Linked DNA regions of Homo sapiens: all the other regions are reported to be linked to region 1. Evidence: microRNA targets listed by miRTarBase, many of them from high-throughput screens and not tested one by one. Region 1 holds a microRNA gene; each other region holds the end of a gene's coding sequence.
What was found. Region 1 holds the annotated microRNA hsa-miR-3194-3p (AGCUCUGCUGCUCACUGGCAGU, at 1,766-1,787, shown strand). A microRNA usually pairs through its seed, bases 2 to 8, with sites in the 3' UTR of a target mRNA and lowers its output. Matches are read on the target gene's strand: a 7mer-m8 pairs with bases 2 to 8, a 7mer-A1 pairs with bases 2 to 7 and ends in A, and an 8mer does both.

Region 2: miRTarBase lists SELENOS as a target of hsa-miR-3194-3p. The part of its 3' UTR that is shown has no 7-base or 8-base seed match.
Region 3: miRTarBase lists SEPTIN4 as a target of hsa-miR-3194-3p. The part of its 3' UTR that is shown has no 7-base or 8-base seed match.

The regions. Positions count from the first base shown.
Region 1 is chr20:51,450,699-51,454,698 of GRCh38, reverse strand. MIR3194 (microRNA 3194) reads left to right here and starts at 1,722; the gene lies at 1,722-1,794. It overlaps NFATC2 (nuclear factor of activated T cells 2), which reads left to right. Exons shown (of 11, transcript NM_012340.5): 6 at 11-151. RefSeq lists an enhancer at 3,318-3,819.
Region 2 is chr15:101,269,108-101,273,107 of GRCh38, reverse strand. SELENOS (selenoprotein S) reads left to right here. Exons shown (of 6, transcript NM_018445.6): 6 at 252-917. The coding sequence ends at 337. Among named protein-coding and RNA genes, the nearest start is that of SELENOS, 6.4 kb to the left of the region's middle.
Region 3 is chr17:58,516,630-58,520,629 of GRCh38, reverse strand. SEPTIN4 (septin 4) reads left to right here. Exons shown (of 14, transcript NM_001368771.2): 14 at 145-374. The coding sequence ends at 204. SEPTIN4-AS1 (SEPTIN4 antisense RNA 1) reads right to left here and starts at 793. Exons shown (of 5, transcript NR_110810.1): 1 at 653-793. It also overlaps a transcript of MTMR4 not described here. RefSeq lists enhancers at 2,042-2,141, 1,489-2,234.

The sequences.
Region 1 (4,000 bases):
TTGCCTGCAGCCCAGCGATCTGCTCACGAGCTGCCCATGGTTGAAAGACAAGACACAGACAGCTGCCTGGTCTATGGCGGCCAGCAAATGATCCTCACGGGGCAGAACTTTACATCCGAGTCCAAAGTTGTGTTTACTGAGAAGACCACAGGTCAGTGGATTTTTGAGCTCTTTCTCTGTCCCCCAGAATCATGCAAAAGTGACCATCTCTTTATTATATACAACTTTGGTTTTGGGGGGTAGATCCCACCGTGCAGTTTTATACCCTGCTCTTTTTACTCAGCGTGTCTTCAGGGATTGTGATGGCCATACCATTCGCCATTGCATGAATGTGCCATTCTACATTTTAACTCTTCTAGGTCATTTTGACAGAAAATGAGATTATCTCCCACCCTCAATCCTTTTTTTAAAATTACTTTTTTACATAAGGAAGGAAATTTTTAAAACTTTTTGCTATTATCAAGAAGGGAGGCCAAACAGCACAGTGATAAAGCATGCATACTCTGGCCCTGGATATCTTGGGTTCAAATTCTGGGTTTGTTATCTGCTTGCTTGGTGATCCGAGGCATATTACCTATCCGTTAAAATTTCTTACCCCATAAAGTTGTCATGGAGGTTAAATGAGCTAATACATGTCACGTAATTATAATAGTGCCAAGTACAGCATAAGCCAATTAATATTGGCTACTTGTATTTTTATTATAAGTAGTTCTGCAGTGAATCAGCTTATACTTCTAGGATTAATTAATCTTGTACATGAATCTATATGTATATCTTTTTAGTTTATTTAGGGTTTATTCCCAGCAGTGGAATTTTGGATAGTCATTCTGAGGACTTTAAATACATATTGCTAAATTACCTTCCAGAAATCTACAAATTGAAGTTGCCATCATGTCAGTCATAGTTTCACCCCCATCCCAGAAATGCCATTTTTTTAAATTAAAAAGGAATCATTGTGGAATTGGTACTTCTTTCTACTTTGCATTTCCTTGCTCTGAGACGCATAATGTTTTGTTTATTCACCACGTGTATTCTTCCTTTGGTGTACTATCGGTGTCTTTTTCAGTGGGTATGTGGTAGAAAAGATGCTGATCTGAAGTAGGAAAATATCAGATTAAGCAATAATTAATGAAACAAATGTGTTGTTAGAAGGAAATTAGCTCAAATAACTTGGGACACTTATTTTGGATACTAGAACCAATTTTCCTTTTCCTTAACAGACATGATTTCAGTAGGTTACTTCAAAGGGGTGTTGATGTTTGTCTATTTGTTTATTGTCCTTAGAACAATCCGAGAATATAACAGGTGAGTTGTCCAGTTGGAGGGATTGTGCACTGTACAAGGGCACCTCCTCTGAGGGCTGCCATTCAAATTGGATACATCACCAGTTTACACGTTAGTAAGACAACTTCTGGCAGGGGGAAGCAGACTGTCTTAGGCAAAGAGTGCTTCTTCCAGTCTCGCACAAATCATCCTTCTGGGATGGGCTGGACATGTGACCGGGGTGTGACAACTGCATTCTCACAGTTGGAAGCATAACAAGAGGCAGAATTTATTTTAAAAGGGTTTGATGACGCCTTTGCGAAAAATAACAAAAAAGGTATTAAGTAAGGCTGTGGCAGTGGGGAAGGGAGATGCAGGGATGGGTCGGGAGTGGTTTAGAAGGCAGATGTCACTGAGGTTTGATGGGACGTAGTGGTGTAGAGAGGCATTAAGAACGCAGGTGGCAGGGCCAGCCACCAGGAGGGCTGCGTGCCACCCGGGCAGCTCTGCTGCTCACTGGCAGTGTCACCTGCGGAAACTCTCCATCATCTATCCCCTGAAAAGCAGGGACAGTGACAGTGCCTACCCACAAAGGTAAGGTCTGAATGAATTAGAGCAAGTGGGCTTAGCACCGGAAGTGCTCGGTAAGGGGCAGGGGCTGCTGCTGTTTTTCTGGAGCTGCTGTGGATGGGGAAGGGGAAGAGGTTGAGTGTCGAGATTGTTTTGTTCACGTGGTGCACTTGGCCAGCTGAGATTTAGCACACAGGAGAGGAGGTCTGTGTGGGGATGAGGTTGGGCAGGGAGGACGGGTTTCATTTTGGAAGTGGAAGCGTTGAGTCTCATGTACCCATGGGCCTTCTTGGATGAACCATGATCTCACCTCTGTGGAAAGGCAAGAGATTGGTGGGTATGTGGCCACGTGGTCTAGACTAAGAAACCAGATCCTGGCTGCAGATGTTGTCATGGGAGCTGTCAGCAATGAGATCTGAGGTGAAGTCCTGGGAATTGGCTCCGACCTCCCAGGATGGCCTCCAGTGGGAGAAGGGGAGGCTTAGAGAACTGAGAGCCACATCCCTTAAAGGTGGCAGAGGAGGAGCTGTCACAGCAGGAGGAGGAGAACCAGGGGAGTCTGGTGCCCTGGAGACCAGGGGAAGGAGACTTGGGAAGGGTCAGCAGAGGCAGTGCTATGAAGGTCACAGAGCCCGAGGTCAGCCTGAGAGTCCAGTGATTGGGGGGCCTCTGGTGATTTGAATCACACGTACCCAGGTGGCAGTGAGTTGAGGAGTGAGCTGAGGAGTAGCGTTGCTTGAGGGATCAGAGATGATGAAGGTAAAGTCTGCTCTAGGCAAGAAGACTCTGCACCAGCAGTCCCCAACCTTTTTGGCACCAGGGACCAGTTGCATGGAAGACAGTTCTTTTCAAGGGTTGGGGAGATGGGCTGATGGTTTCAGGATGATTCAAGCACATTACATTTATTGTGTACCTTATTTTTATGATTATTACATTGTAATATACAATAAAATAATTATACAACTCACCATCATGTAGAATCACTGGGAGCCCTGAGCTTGTTTTCCTGCAACTAGGTAGTCCCATCTGGGGGTTGACGGGAGACAGTAACGGATGATCAGGCATTAGACTCTCCTAAGGCGTGCACAACCTAGATCCCTGGCAAGCGCAGTTTACAGTAGGGTTCATGCTCCTGTGAGAATGTAATGGCAGGCTCATCTGACAGGAGGCAGCGCTCAGGCGGTAATGCAAGTGATGGGGAGTGGCTGTCAACACAGATGAAGCTTTGCTCTCTCGCCCGCCACCCACTTACTGCTGTGCGCCTAGTACCGGTCTGTGGTCCGGGATTGAAGACCCCTGGTCTATACCACATTTTTAGCCTCAGCATTATTGACAGTTTGGCCCAGATAATGACTTGGCAGGGGCGCTGTCCTGGGCACTGCAGGATGTTCAGCAGCATCCCTGACCTCCACCCACGTGACACCAGTAGTGCGGCCCAAGTTGTGACAACCAAAAATGTCTCCAGACCTTGCCAAATTTGCCCTGGGGGGCAATATTGCCACTGGTCAACAACTGCTGGTCTACAGCTTAGAAATTTTCAGGAAAGACAAGGAAAGGAAAAGAGCATGAGGAAAAATCAGAATCAGGGTCACCTTAAGCCTTCCCCTCTGCGTCTCAGCAGTTCAGGCCCAGCATCTGCTTGGTGGAATGCCTGCACAGCTCCCCCGAGCTGTCCTGCAAAGTGGGGTGCAGGGAGAAGGCCTGGCCTCTGCCTGCTTTGCCTTGAGGGGCTGATCCAGCCACACAGGGCTCTGTTGACTGAGTGGTTTCTATTTACACTGAAATCTTTTTGTTGCTGATGGAACTGTGCAGGAAAGAGTTTGAGGCTGGATCCTACCAAGTTCCTTACGGAGTTAGGAGTCAGCCAGCTTTTAAGCACTCTGGGAGTTTAATTATTCTGAAGCTATCCAAGGGCATCAATTAAGCATTTGTGGAATGAGTGAATGGCATTTATTCTCTAGCTTCTATTCTCTTGGTTTCAGAAGAAATTTCATATTTACCTCTTGAAGGCAGGAAAACACAGAGCCTGTTTCAGCTGTGAAAAGTTGGCTGTTAAGAACAAGAGTAATAATCACAGCTCCTATTATTGGCCACTGTCTGCAGGCAGCCCTGTGCCTGCCACTTTCCGTGTGTGGTCTCATCTAAGCTGGCACCCATGGGAGGCAGA
Region 2 (4,000 bases), not on the chromosome of region 1:
ATGTGTTTCGGAGGTTGGGACAAAGAAGCTGAATGACTTTTTTCCCCACCAGACAATCAGTTCAAATGGCAATCACAATATAAAGGTTTTTTTTTTTTTCACATAGCTAAAAGGTTTTTTTAAATGTCCCTTAGGATCTGTATCTTTGCAGTGCTTTGCGTGTCACTCTCATAATTTTATTGTGGATATACAATGTTCCCAGATTTTCAGATTTTTATCAATACTGTTGTGCTGCTTTTCTGTCCTCCCAGGTTATAACCCGTTGTCTGGTGAAGGAGGCGGAGCTTGCTCCTGGAGACCTGGACGCAGAGGCCCGTCATCTGGCGGATGAGGCTAAGAATCTTGTTAGTGTCACTTTTGACATTAGCAAGATGAACCCTTAACCCTCGATTCAATTGCCTTACGCACGCTTTTCACAGTGACTAGCCAAGGGGAGGTGGGGTTGATTTCTGTTCCTAACTACACCTGCATATGTCAGGGCTCCAGTCAGCAAAAGGTATAGATGTTGCCTCTAGGCATGAGGTCATTGGTCACATTCTACTTGGAGACAGTGATTGCATTCATTGATTTCATGGTTAATTGCTAGTTGGTAGGTAAAGGCCTCTAGATGATTAGCAATCTTGATAAAAGAGGCCTAGTAATGTTCTTTTGAGGTTAGAAATCCTTGCTGCTAGGACAGTCTCTGTGACAGGTTGCGTTGAATGATGTCTTCCTTATCAATGGTGAGCCCACCAGTGAGGATTACTGATGTGGACAGTTGATGGGGTTTGTTTCTGTATATTTATTTTTATGTACAGAACTTTGTAAAAACGAAACTATTTAAAAAACAAGAATAACATTTTTAGCATCTTTATTCAAGGAGATTTATGGACTTCAATTTGTCTATCAAACATTAAATAGCTTTTTATTACAACCTCTAACTATTACTTATTTCTCTATTTATTATTACTCACCCAAAATAAGTCTGGCAAGTGGCAGACAGCTGCCGTGATTTTGAAAGTTGACAGACTCCTTGGGGTTCATCCACAAAATTGGGTGCTTGGAGTCGAGTTGCCGAATTACTGGGATAAAGAAACATCGTGCCTCAAGGTTCCTCATAGGCTGACCAGGTTTCTACGTGACCTCTCAGTTATTCCCTTACGCCATGACTCATCTTTTACGCTCTTGTCCAGAGGCACTATCAGCAGTTTTGGATAAAGAGCCAAACAGTAAATATTTTAGACTTTACAGGCCACATATGATCTCTGTCACATAGTCTTAGGTTTTTATATTTTTAAAGGATTGTTTTTAAAAAAGATTCTCTGCTCATGGGCTGGATTTGGGCTGAATGCTGTAGTGTGTGGACCCCGTCTAGATCATCAGAAGGAAAAACATTAACCTTCAGAATAGGGGGTAATTCGCTGCAAAAGTACTATAGAATGGTCTCATACATAAATTAGTCAACATTTGTTATCTCCTGCAGGTAGAATATTCCGTGGTTGCTTCTTGACCAAGGGAAATACAGTCTGGCTGTGAGAGACTTAAAATCTCTTGAGGAGCGCTCTGGAGAATGGCTGAAGGAGAGGAAACAGGAGCCTTGAGCAGTGTAATTACAAACAAATAGGTTGGCATAGTCTTAAGTCTTTGAGTCTAGAGAGATTTGAGTTTTGTTTTGCCTGTGGAGGCAATTGGGGGTTTCAGGTCAAAGAGAGGGTCAGTGGAAACAAGGGTGGGCCTTGTGAGGTGTGGGGAAGCCCTGGGACCCTCACTCCCCTTCCAGTGTGTAACTGGATTGGCTCCCACCAGCCCAGAAGATTTACGACGTGGGAAATGGTATACTTGGATTAAAATATTTCATCCAGATTTGTTTACATCTAGAGAGAACCCCTTGTAGGTTATAAGGAAACTTTTTAACATTCTTCCTTGAATATATTTTCTGTAGCTGAAAATGTTTGTGAAGTGGCTGTCAACTACACATCGCATGAGTAGAGGGGCTCTGGGTCGGGGTTTCATATGCAGCAGAGCAGCTCCCTTGCTGCCGTCCATCAAGAGCCCTCAACACAAGAGTTTGTTATAAATAGAAATAAACGACAAAAAGTAGAGGGGTATGTTTAAGTACACTATTAGATGTGACTGACTACCTTGAAACCTGATTTTTTTCCATGGGGAGAAACAGTGCTTGAATTCTGCATGCCCCCCTTGCATCTAGCACCTTTTGGTAGGGGTGGAAGGAGGGTGTCAGGGAGAATGATTAGGAGATAATGGAGGGGAGGGGAAACTTGCGTTGTGTAATAGCATTTGAAGAGCACTTACCACGTGGCAGGAGTGTCCATTTCTGTTTGATCCCCCTAGAATCCTATGAAACGGGTATGTTACTAACCTTGGTTTTCAGAAACTGAAGCTTAGATGGGCTTAGTAACTGGTCCACAACGCTACTCGCTGTAGTCTACTTCATCCTTGTGTTCATATTAGCCAAAGGCCTTAAGTCATCAAGGTGTGGGAAGCTTCTTGCAGCTAATGAAACAGTTATGTGGCCAGGCACAGTGGCTCACGCCTGTAATCCCACCAGCCAAGATGGGTGGATCACCTGAGGTCAGGAGTTCGAGACCAGCCTGACTAATATGGTAAAACCCTGTCTCTACTAAAAATACAAAAAATTAGCTGGGCATGATGGCATATGCCTGTAATCCCAGCTCCTTGGGAGGCTGAGGCAGGAGAATTGCTTGAACGTGGGAGGTGGAGGTGGAGGTTGTGATGAGCCAAGATCGTGCCATTGCACTCCACCCTGGGCAACAAGAGCAAAACTCCATCTCCAAAAAAAAAAAAAAAAAAAAAGTTATGTGAAGTAATAATACAGTGAAAATCACATTACAGATCTAGGGCATTAAGCATTTCAGAAAGGTGGACTGAGCTTGCCAGGGAAAGCAGGTCTTGGACCTTTCTTGAAAAAATGAGAAATTGGGGGCAGAGGTGCAAATGCCAAAAGCTGAGGCCCCTGGGGAAGAAGGGACGGCCAGAGCCATAAAAACCATGCTTCAAACCTAGGCCATGTGCTCACCTTGTCCACCAGCAGAGGCTGCTGTGGGGCTCGCGGTGTGTCCTGGCAGTTGGCAGGAGTTTGGGACAGACACTGGGAGCTGTGAAGTTTTAGATAATGTGTGACGCACCCTATCCCAATCATGGAGCAACATGAGTAAATTGTGGGGCAGAACACACAAGAGTCTTCAATTGGAATGCTTAGGAGATAGAGTTGTGCCCTTGGCTAAATGTTTGAGGAGAAAAGACTTGAACGACCACGTTTGGATCCCATCACCGCCTGGATCCCATCCTCTCCTCAGGGACTCCACTCTGCGCCCCCTTCAGATAGGTAACATGCCAAGTCTGTCTCTTCTTGGAAAGAGCAAGGCCCCGTCAAATGCGCAGCCCTGGGTGCCTCTGGGTGGGCGTTTCTCACCCTACTCCTTAGCGATGTGGAAGGTGCCCTTACTGAGTTCATCCCATTTCTCGTGCCAGTGGAATTTTGGTCTCGCTGTATTTGACTTGACAGCACATTTCCTACATGCCCCTCCTCGCAGCCCTCCCTTCTGGAACACTCTACACACTGGATCTTAGCCCCCGTGACAGTCCACACCTCTCTCCTTTGCCAGTTGTGCCATGGTCTCTAGTCTTGAAAAAGTGTTCTGTGTTCCCTAATTTCTCTTCCTGCATTTGCTGTTAAATCCATTCTGCTGAAGCTGCTCTTCAGGTCACGTGTGGCAGGGGGTGATGGGTCGCCTCGGTCCTCGCCTGAAGTTAGCATCCTTTGCGGTCCTTGAGCACTCCTGAAGAAACACCTCCCTTGGCTTCCAAAACACCGAGTTTGCCTGGCTTTCTCCTACGTTTCTGGCCACTCCTTGTTCTCTTTTGCTGCTTTTTCTCACCTTCCTGAAACCCCTGGGGTGCCCAGAGCTGTCTTTAGACCTGTTCTCTTGGCCACATTTGACACAGTGTGTCTCCCCCTTTCTCCCCTGACTAAGGGGAA
Region 3 (4,000 bases), not on the chromosome of region 1:
GGTCAATAGGTGGTTCTGTCCAGAGTCTCCATCACACCTCACGGCTACCAAGGTTCTGGCTTAAGGGATTAGAAATTTGGGGCACTTTCCCAATACTAAAGGACTCTCCAAAAGTCCCCATTTTGATGCCTGTGCCTATTCCAGCTGCGGCGGATGCAGGAGATGCTACACAAAATACAAAAACAGATGAAGGAGAACTATTAACTGGCTTTCAGCCCTGGATATTTAAATCTCCTCCTCTTCTTCCTGTCCATGCCGGCCCCTCCCAGCACCAGCTCTGCTCAGGCCCCTTCAGCTACTGCCACTTCGCCTTACATCCCTGCTGACTGCCCAGAGACTCAGAGGAAATAAAGTTTAATAAATCTGTAGGTGGCTTCTGGTGTCCCTGTGTGTATTTTTATGACCTGGAGATCAAGATCCTGGGACCCAGTTTTGAAAGGCTAATGGTAGAAGATGTTGGTTTCTGGCTTTTAGTAGGGAAGGGAGAGTGGGGAAAACTTTCCACTTCCTTTCCCCTTCTAAGTCCCTGCTTAGAATCCAGCCTGGCTTCTCCATCTTGACGATCATATCTATCATGCCTCTGTTATCTGGGGTCTGGGTCTCTCTCCATCTTTCACACATACAGTACCTTTGGTAATAAAAAGATTCCTACCTGTGGTGCATATTTGGGTCCTGGATAGGTCAACAGGTGGTTCTGTCCAGAGTCTCCCATCACACCTCAGGGCTACCAAGGTCCTGGCTTAAGGGATTAGAAATTTGGGGCACTTCTCCTGGCTAAGGAGAAAGTGAAACCCTGTCTCTACTAAAAATACAAAATAGCCGGGCGTGGTGGCGGGCGCCTGTAGTCCCAGCTACTCGGGAGGCTGAGGCAGGAGAATGGCTGAACCCGGGAGGCGGAGCTTGAAGTGAGCTGAGATGGCGCCACTGCACTCCAGCCTGGGTGACAGGGCGAGACTCCGTCTCAAAAAAAAAAAAGAAAAATAAAAAGAAAAAGAAATTTGGGGCACTTCCCCAATATTAAAGGACTGTCCAAAAGTCCCCCCTGCCCTTTTTTTTTTTGAGGCGGAGTCTCGCTCTGTCGCCCAGGCTGGAGTGCAACGGCGCTATCTCGGCTCACTGCAAGCTCCGTAGCTGGGACTACAAGACTCCGTAGCTGGGACTACAGGCGCCCGCCACCACGCCCGACTAATTTTTTGTATTTTTAGTAGAGACGGGGTTTCACCGTGTTAGCCAGGATGACCTCGATCTCCTGACCTTGAGATCCGCCCGCCTCGGCCCCCCAAGGTGCTGGGATTACAGGCATGAGCCACCGCGCCCGGCCCAAAAGGCCCCATTTTGATGCCTGTGCGTATTCCAGCTGCGGCGGACGCAGTTTTGTATTTGATACCTGCCCTTGGGAAAACACAAGGTATTAACTGCGTGCAACCTCCTGACTTTCTGTTTCCCCTGATCTGGGAAAAGGGATAGGCAGGTTAAGCTCTACACTGTAGAAAGCCTGTGATAGAGCTTTGAACAAATGCTGCAGCCATTGTAATCACCAAACACTATAGTAAGTGCTGGGAATGAATAAAAACACAATCACCGTCCTACAGGAGTTCAGTATTTAATTAAAAAATTTACAGCATCTGCTAGATTGCAGGCTGTTCTAGACCCTGGAGTTCAAGTAGTGCAAAGTTCCTGTCTTCCTGGAACTTACCAACAGTACTGGAGTTTCAACGTTCTATAAACAAAGATGGGTGAGGACATTAGCCCCGGGCTAATTAAAGCGCTCAGGCCCGCTCCAGACCTGAGAATATCAGCTGAATCTGAATCAACTGTTCTCCATTTCTGTCGGTTGGTGGTATCGCGGGGCCACGGCGACCTCCAGCGGCCACCCTCCGTCTTGTGGTCTGTTCTGGGTCCCCGGGAAGGAAAGGGAGGGGCGATAAGCCGGGTCCTTGGGAGCGTCCTGGTCTCCCTTCGCTTTACAGACTAGGAGGCCGCAGCTAGCTGGCAGTCTCAGATCCAGGTTTCCCATCTCTGGGATGAGAGGAGAGTTCTTCACTCAGGACTGCCAGCGCAATGCAGGTCGTGAAGAACTGCAGGGTCGTTTATCGATACAAAGTGAGTGTTGGAGGAACCCATCAAGACACAGGAAGGGGGAAATCCTAGCGCCGCCAGTCGGAGATGACCAAGACTGAACCTCAGGCCCAGCCCTCCCTTCTCTCTTAGCCTGCAGGTTTTTCTCCTATTCTGGCGTTGGGACCGGATGACAGCTGCGAAACCAAAACGGGAATGGATAAACTGAGGTGCCACTGGGGACCTGTTTCAGAAGTACCTCCTGGGCGGGGCCATCACCGGAAGTGGCTTTAGGCATGTAACCTACAATGCCCGCCTCTAATTGCGCTACCAGTAGGCGACGAGCCGCCTCCACTTCCGGTCCCCAGAGCAGTGGCCAGCAGCCCCCTCTTTACTGCTCTCCTATTGGCTGCCGCAAGGACGCGCTGTGATTTCCCATTGGTCGCGTCTCCCCTCCGGCGCCGCGCCTCCTTCCTCCAGGTATAGTCTCGTCTTTAGGCATCCGATTGGCTAAAGGCTGGGAGGGCGTTTGCCCGACTCGACCAATGAGTGGGGTCGAGAGTGAGGGCGGTGGCTGCGTGATGGGGGCAGGGCGGGACTTGGCGTGGCCATTGGCCAGGGCGGGTACAGGCTAGAGATATGATTGGTTCAGGAGAGGGGCACTGTGGTGGGGTCGGGACTGCGCGGCCTCAGCAGCTGCGGGAGACGGAAGTGGCAAGAGCGCGGCCTCAGAGGGTCGGGCGGACGCCGCCTGGGTGAGTCACCGTGCCCCCTGCACTGCAAGCCTGGGAACCGCAACGACCGCGTCTTGCCCGGCTCCGCCCTGGCCCCCACCGGCTTTCCTGAGTCCCGCCTTCTGTCATTTGGGGCTCCGCCTCCCAGTCTTTAGGCTCCGCCCCTAGAACCTGGGCACCTGGGCTCCCCTGCCAACCTGGCCCGCCCCCTGGGACCAGATCCCCTAGGTCTGAAAACCCTGGGCCTCCCAGGCCTGATCCTTGTCCCTCCTTCCCTCCCTTCCTTCCCTGGGGCTGCTGCCAGTGGGCGGTGAGGCAGCACCTCTGGCTTGCCTCTTGCCGGTTCCCCCATGAGGGAGAATGGCCTAGGGAAGAGGATACTGTGAACAGGGAGGTGGGCAGTACCACAGATGGAGGCTTTTATCCCCGCAGCCTCCCGCAGGGCTCTGCTGCACTGCCTGAGGAAAGCAGGCATGAAGGAAAGTGTCAGTGAAACCTAGGCCTGGCTCCCTAAGTGAGCCTAGGAGGCCCTATCCTGAAATCCCTGTTACTTGGGCTCATTGGACAGATGCTGACTCCAAGGCCTGGATTGGCCTGATTCTGTCCCTGTTGTGTGGCCTCCTCTCCATAACCTCCACCCCACTTGGTGTCAAATACACTCAGGAGGACCTGTGCAGCCCTGCTGCCCTCTGATCACAGGTTGTGGTCCCCTCCCTCTTGTCCCACTCTGGACTCTGCCCCCAGTAAACAGGTCAGGTGGGTACTACTCCCAGACTCAGAGACTGGCAAAACATTCCTGTGGATTCATGCTCCTTCAACTACTGCCACTTCACCCCAAGAGTCAGGGCCTAAAATGAGCCCCAGTTGGGCAGCCTGTGTCTCTTCATAGTTGGCAGTTCTGCTCCCTGAGAAAGAAGTGTTCTCCCTCTGCGTCTGGAAATCAGGACTCCTGAATTCTGCTGAATAATCTTGGATGACACTCATTCCTGTTTCAGAACTTCGTGGCTGACTTCATGCCCTGCAGGATCACTTGTTGCTTTCTCCTCATGTAGCTCCCATTGCCTCTCTCTGGCATGGTGACTTGTGGAGAGACTGGAGTCTCTGTGAGGGAGAAGAATAAGAGTTGTAGAGAAGGTCAGGGGTAGATGTGTGTCATTTGTTGATTCTATGGTAATGTTAATGGGGTCCTTTACTTTTATGTTCCTCTG